Homo sapiens: one gene and its partner. The protein of the gene in region 1 purifies or fractionates together with the protein of each later gene. This does not show direct contact. Each region holds a gene or a part of one and is shown in the gene's direction. Other genes may lie near its edges. The genes, in order: SVIP and GOLGA1.

Region 1 (3,828 bases):
AATGAAATAATAGATTTATTATTTTAACACTATATATATTTTAATACTCTTATGCTTACTACTAATCTTAAATAATTCAAAAATTCAAGCAATATGGAGAAGTATAAAGAAGTGTAAAAGTCATCCAAACTAAGTACCATTTTGACAGACATAATTTCTAACCTTCATTTATATATCTTATTAAATTGGATTACGCTATAAGTTCTGTTTTATGGCCTGAGCTCTTTTACGCATTGATTTGGAATCTTTGATCTTTCCATTGCCCCTGTTTATTATAGTTATGTAAATGTTAATTTGGATTACAGAATGTATACAGGTGTGGGTATCATACACATACCTCCCTAGATATGGATCCCAGAGCTAGACACTGGGAATATAATGGTGGACAAGTTAAGCAGAGTCTCTGAATGCTGGAGTCTTTACACTCTAGCAGGACTTTAAAGGATTTATTTTTAAAATCCCTTAAAGCTCAGGAAAATAATGGCTCAGATATTAAGAATTTATTCTTGGTCCATTTTTAAAGTAAATAGTAGTATATTTGTGAAAAGGACAATGTCTTTAATTTCAGTCATTTATATTTAACTTGTCAATGATTTATGAGTACCTTTCAACAGATTTATTGGTTTTTTTTCTCTCAAAACTACACACACACACACATGCACATACATATACATGGACATATACACATACACTTGCCTACATGTAGATACTCTCGTAACTTGTGGGGCAGGCAGTTTATGAACACCCTGAGCAGTTGATTCTGGCTCAAGAATATCACAGAAATAAGAATGTGTGTCTGTGTATTTTACTATTGTACGTTACTTCATCTTATATCATTTAACGAATGAAAATTTATGAAGTTTTTTTATGGTGAACTTTTAGCAATATATAATTAGTTTCAATATAAGGTAAATAAGTCTGACCATTTTGCTTATGTTTTTTATAATTCCATAATAGAACAGAATAGGTCTAGTGTAAAGTAAAACAGTTGGGTGATAACGAGGTCAATTCTTTATCATATCTCAATATTCTGTTGAGATAAAGTGCTGTTTCACTAGGTTTACTTCATATAGGGTTGTCAAAAACAAACACAAAATTACAAAAGTTAAATTGTAGGACTGGAAATAATGAGATCCACTATTTCACAGTAGAAGTGGTGAAGGTATTAAGTTAAAGTCATACGTAATGTTATAGGAAAAGGATAATTTAATCAACACTTAATCATAATTAAGAAGACACTTCACAAGTTCTAACCTAATGAAATTAACATCAGCTTTTAAAGTATAATAAAGAAAGAGGCTTTCTTAAACTTGAAGCTTCCACACTCTGAAGTCTATAGATTAAAAAAAAAATTTAGGCCTTATATTACTTACAATCCATTCAAAAGTGCTCAAAATGTAAAACATACCCAAAGTTAAATTTAGTTTCTGTTTTTCTTTGTGTACTGTTCTTGTAAGAAATCTCTCAAACTCACTTAGTAAAAATGACCTTCAGGACCTTGAAACTATATAGTGGCAGGAGGATTTTCTCCAGTGGCTCACTGTCATTAGCCACTGCTGTTGTCCACTGTGAGTAATTTTTCCTTGGAATATTCCTCATCACCTACCACTACCACACTAGCTTCAAGTGGCATGCTCCATTCTGCTTGACACATGCACAACATGTCAAGAGCATGAAGTGAAAAAATTCTGGAAGGCTCAGGGATAACAGAAGGGAAAAATACAAGGCAGAAGTACTTAACCCTCAAAACGCTTGGCCTATGGTCCTTTAATGGCTGCTGTCTGGCTTGTTTCATGGGCTGGCCTGAAGTATTGGTAGAGTCTTCCTAAGGTAGGAAGGTTAGGAAGACTCTTCCCTAGGTAGAGTCTTTCTGACCTGACTCTACCTAGAGTATGAGTCTAGTTTGCATTCCCTGTCTTCATGCCTTTCACCTATTCATCTCCTGACCAGTGCTGCATCTTTCCAGGGTAATTAGCATGGGTAATGCTGTCTTCTGACTTCTTACCTGAAGAAGTCAATGTGATGATGGCATCAGGATGCAAAGTACTATCAGTACAGGATATAGCAGCACGGGAGTAAGGGTAGACCTCTAGTACAATGGCTTTCCACCTTAGCTGCATGTTGGAGTTTCATAGGCAGCTTTCAAAAAGGATTGTTCATTGGGCTCCACCTCACACCAGTCAGTCTCTGAGAGTAGGGTTTAGCCATCAGGACTGTTTTAAGCTTCCCAAGGTAATCTAATGTGAACCCAGATTGAGAATCACTATCCTAGCGTTTATAACACTTGTCCTAAGAGAGATGTTTTGGAAGATAGAGTCCCATGGGAATAAATGTTTAAAAATGCTAAATTGTATATTGTAGACTATATCCCCTTCTTAGAGACTAAAAAAGGCACAGAATTATGGCCTCTAAGAAATTGTACAATGAAGAAAAGCAAGTTTACTTGGATTAATCTTTAATGTTGAAAATTTATTTAAACATAGATTTTATATATATATGTGTGTATATATATACGTATATATATACATATATATATACGTATATATATGTGTATATATATATATATGTGTGTGTGTATATATATATATAAAACACCCAATAATATTCCTTGGATGTACTTGGAAAACACTATCAAGAGATTGCCAAATATCTCTGGTTCTATCCTAATGGCTCTTCAGGACCTATCACAGATTTAATAGACTTCATTAAACAAAGGGGCAAATGGAATATTTTCTTAACTCAAGAAGGAAAAGACCTTGCCAAACCATTTTTTAATGGTTTCTGCCATTTCTTGACTCCCTGGCTCAAACAAGAATTTTTAAATTTTTGTTTTGTTGTGTTTTATTTTGTGTTCCTTTACTGATTATTGGATATTTAGGCTCTTGCTACTGAATAGCAGGTTCACTGTGCAGTGGTTACCAACTTCAGAGTCCAGTGGACAGAATACTCATGCATGTAACATTTGCATGAAGAGGCTGAGCACAGTCACTCACACGTGTAATCTCAGCTGTGAGAGGAAGGCTTTGGGAGGCTGAGAAGATGGGATGATCACTTGAGGTCAGGAGTTAAGAGACCAGCCTGGGCAACATAGCGAGACCCTGTCTCTACAAAAATAAAAAATAAATTAGGTGTGGTGGCATGTGCCTGTGGTCCTAGCTTTTCGGGAGGCTGAGGTGGGAGAATGACTTGAGCCTGCGAGGTTAAGGCTGCAGTGAGCCATTCCCACCTCACCCCAGCCTGGGCGATAGAGTGAGACCCTGTCTCAAGAAAATCCCAAAACAAAACCAAAAACATTTAACGTGGAGTGAGTTTATTACTTACAGATTGGCAACAAGGGACAACAGAAGCCTAGGATTCATTATAAGCTTGTCTCCCAAGGAAAACTGCCTGGGGTTGATGACATCTGTGTGTGCCCCACTTGAACCTCAGATGAGTGCCCTGGGTTTTATGACCTGGGGGTTAGAAGGGGAGGTACTACATGACTCCTTGGGCTAAAGCATTGAAGGACGTCCTGTCTTTAGGGAGGGACTGGAACAGAACTTGAGCTGTCCTTGGCCATTCATTTGCTATCCCAGGATGTTACATTCCCAGCACATTCTACAGTTACTCTTGAAAACTACAGGCAAGACAGTGAGACAGAGCTATCCTGCAACTACCCACCAATCTGACCAGATATTTTGTCTTCTTTATGCTTTTAAACTATCATCTTATTTCAGGCTTTGGACTATAATGTAAAATTTTATGAATAGCTGCTATTCAGAAAAATCATTTTGTATTTCTATGTCCCATATTCCTCTTTTTACCTGTTTGTTCACTGAAGTACTGTTA
Region 2 (3,828 bases), on another chromosome or scaffold:
TTTTTTTTTTTTCTTTTTTTTTGGGACAGAGTCTTGCTCTTGTCGCCCAGGTATTATAGGCGCCCGCCACCACACCCGGCTAATTTTTGTATTTTTAGTAGAGACAGGGTTTTACCATGTTGGCCAGGCTGGTCTCAAACTCCTGACCTCGTGATCCACCAACCTCGGCCTCCCAAAGTGCTGAGATTACAGGCGTGAGCCACCGTGCCTGGCCTGACTCAAATATGTCTTTAAGCACATAATGGACCTTGAGCATGAAAAATACAATAGTGGCTGACATGACCAGGGCTGTACCTTTGACATACTTGGCTCTAATCCAGTTTGTTTTATGGCACGTAATCAAATGATGTCATTACAATTTGTTTTTTCATTTCATTGACATACATTTGTTTCTACATTAGGGCTGTGCTACACTCTGAGAATATAAAGATGAATGATAATATTTTTGAATATAAAGTAGTGTTTCTCAGGCCCAGCACAGTGACTCAAGCCTGTAGTCCTAGCACTTTGGTAGGCCAAGGCAGGAGGATCACATGAGGTCCTCCTCTTGACCCCATCTCTACCAAAAAAAAAAAAAAAAATTAGCCAGTTGTGGTGGTGTGCACCTGTAGTTCCAGCTGTTTGGGAGGCTATGGTGGGAGAATCGCTTAAGCCCAGGAATTCAAGGCTGCAGTGGGCCATGACCATATCACAGCACTGTAGCCCAGGCAATAGAGCAAGACTATCTTTAAAAATAAAAATAAGGCTGGGTGTGGTGGCGTGCACCTGTAATTCCAGTACTTGGGAGGCTGAGGCAGGAGATTCGGTTAAACCTGGGAGGTGGAGGTTGCAAGTGAGCTGAGATTGTGCCACTGCGCTGCAGCCTGCCTGGGTGACAGAGAGAGACTCTGTCTTAAAAAAATAATAAAATAAATAAATAAATAAATAAATATAAATAAAATAAAGTAGTATTTCCCAATGACATAATTTATTATTGGCATTTTGAGCAGAACAACTCGTATTGTATGATTGTCCATTGCATTGCGCGACATTTAGCATTCCTGGCCTCTGGGTTCTGAATGCCAATAGCATCCTTCAGTCATTGACATCCAGCCCTTCCCCTCACATCACAGAACCACCCCCTATTCGGCAGTGCCATCCACCCTACCCTCATCTTTCAGAATTGCTGATCTCAAGTGAGACAGAGCCTTACAACATAATTACAGTACAGTAAGATTTTGTCAATAGAGGTCTTAGCTAAGTATTATCATACTTACAGATACCTAAGTGGAAACTAAGAGGTTATTGACCTTGTTCACAGTTATAACCGTAAGTGACAGAGTTGGATTCTAACCCAAGTCTTACTCCAGAACTCATGCTTATTCTACTGCACTTTGCTGCCTCACAATAAGGAGCACCCAGTAAATATATACGTGAATGAATGACTGTGATACAGGCTTTTTACCCTCAATGAACTAAAAATCTCAATACAGACATTGTTTTCCTTCAGAGGCTTACAGTTTCATTATAGAACTCAAACCTACTGTAATCACAAGAAAAGAAATGCTCAAACAAGAAGTCTCAAGTAAGTGAACTAGGTTTTTCTTTTTTCTTTTCTTTTTTTTCTTTTTTTTGAGACACGGTCTTGCTCTTTCACCCAGGCTGGAGTGCAGTGACGTCAACGGCTCACTGCAGCCTCAGCCTCCCAGGCTGAAGTGATCCTTCCACCTCAGCCTCCCAAATAGCTGGGACTACAGACACATGCCACTACAACAGGCTAATTTTTTTTTATTATTATTATCTGTAGAGATGGGGTTTCGCTATGTTGCCCAGGCTGGTCTCGAACTCCTGGGCTCAAGCAATCCACCCGCCTCAGCCTCCCAAAGTGCTGGGATTACAGAGGTGAACCACCACACTCAGCCCTAGATTTTTCAAATACAAAAGATATACCATAGGGGAAGTACATTCCAGCCCAGGAGTCAAGGAAATCTTCCTAGAGGAACTGGAATGTCAAGGATCAGGAGGACAGCAGGAGGCAGAAAAGGCAGAAGGTCAGAGAGTACATTTGGGGTCATGGAAGAAGGGGGAAAATAGATACACAACTTTGGTTTTTGTATTATTTTGTTTTTTTCTGAGACAGGGTCTCACTTTGTCACCTAGGCTGGAGTGCAATGGCGTGATCTTGGCTCACTGCAACCTCCACCTCCTAGGCTCAAGCAATCCTCCCACCTCAGCCTCCTGAATAGCAGGGACTACAGGCACCAACCGGGCTAATTTTTGTATTTTTAGTAGAGACAGGATTTCACCATGTTGGCCAGGCTGGTCTTGAACTCCTGGCATCAAGTGATCTGCCCACCTCGGCCCTCAAAGTGCTGGGATTACAGGCACCTGGCCACAACTTTGATAGTCAAGGGACCCTTTGATGTCAATTAGAACCATCTGTTGTTTTTATAATTGGAAAAATGGGGCTCAGGGAAGTCCAGACTTTGGTCACAGTAAGTTTCTTCATTCATTCTAAAAATATTAGTTGAGCTTTACTATGTGCTGGGCTCTGTGCTGGGTGTTCATAATATTATGGTGAGCAAAATAGATACAGTTCTTGCCTTTGTGGTGCTTATAGTCTAGAAGGGAAGTCAGACATTAATCAGTAATCACATATATAATTACTAACCGTGATGAGTGTTCTGAAAGAAAACTACGAGATTTAGTGAGATCCTATTAAAAGATATCAGATCAGGGCTGGGCTTGGTGGCTTACGCCTGCAGTCCCAGCACTTTGGGAGGCCGAGGCAGGTGGATCACCTGAGGTTGGGAGTTCGAGACCAGCTTGACCAACATGGAGAAACCCTGTCTCTACTAAAAATACAAAATTAGCTGGGCATGGTGGCACACACCTGTAATCCCAGCTACTTGGGAGGCTGAGGCAGGAGAATCGCTTGAACCCAGGAGGTGGAGGTTGCAGTGAGCCGAGATTGCACCATTGCACTCCAGCCTGGGCAAAAAGAGCGAAACTCCGTCTCAAAAAAAAAATATATATATATATCAGATCAGATCCAGTTGGAGCCGTAGAACACTTAAGGAAGTAACACTCGATACAGTGCTCAGGCTGGAGAGAAAGGGATGATGGGAGAGAATTTCAAGCAGGGAACAGCATGAACAAAAACTCTGAGGCAAATAAAAGGATTAGCACATTCAAGGAACTAGAAGAAAGCCAGTGACATACAGAATAAGAGAGAATAACAGATTACTCTGGCCGTTAGGAGACTGAGAGGGTCTTCCACTTAGGAAGCTTTTGCAGTTGTTCGACCGTAAGATGATGGAGGCTTTGACAAGTGTGGTGGTGAAGATAATAATGGGTAGACAAATGTAAGAACTATTGAAGAGATTGACAGACTTACTAATGTAATAGATATGGGAGGACAGGAAGAGAAAAGTCTGTATTTTTATGGGTGATTTATGGGCTTCTGGCTTGGGCAAAAGAAGGGCTGGTATTGTGTGAAGATTGTAAATTTGGAATTTGTTTTTTTCTTGTCTTTATTGAGTATATATAAAAACATATTTATAAAATATGAGTATGATAGAAAGTATAATAAGGCAATGAGCCCTCTGAGCTATCCCTCAGGTTAAGAAAAAGAACAATGTGTTTATCTTTGAGGTTCCCTCTGTGCCCTTCACTATTCCATCCCATTCCTTTTTCCTTTGGAAGTAAGTACTATTTGGAGATTGCTTCATTGTCTACTTTGCTTTCTAATGTTGTCAGTTTTATCCCTAAACTATCTTCTTTAGTTTCCCATGCTTGTTAATGTTATATAAATCATTCTGTAGGTATTTTTCTAAACTTACTTTTTGT

The links.
Region 2: the proteins of SVIP (region 1) and GOLGA1 fractionate together in Homo sapiens (co-fractionation; one study listed by BioGRID). This does not show direct contact.

What each region holds. Positions count from the first base shown.
Region 1 is NC_000011.10:22,823,184-22,827,011, reverse strand, and holds part of SVIP (small VCP/p97-interacting protein), read left to right. Parts: intron 1-3,828. UniProt on the Homo sapiens protein: Negative regulator of the ER-associated degradation pathway (ERAD) of misfolded proteins. It competes with AMFR/gp78 for binding VCP/p97, and inhibits AMFR/gp78-VCP/p97 complex formation that is required for degradation of ERAD substrates.
Region 2 is NC_000009.12:124,917,040-124,920,867, reverse strand, and holds part of GOLGA1 (golgin subfamily A member 1), read left to right. Parts: intron 1-3,828. UniProt on the Homo sapiens protein: Involved in vesicular trafficking at the Golgi apparatus level. Involved in endosome-to-Golgi trafficking. Mechanistically, captures transport vesicles arriving from endosomes via the protein TBC1D23.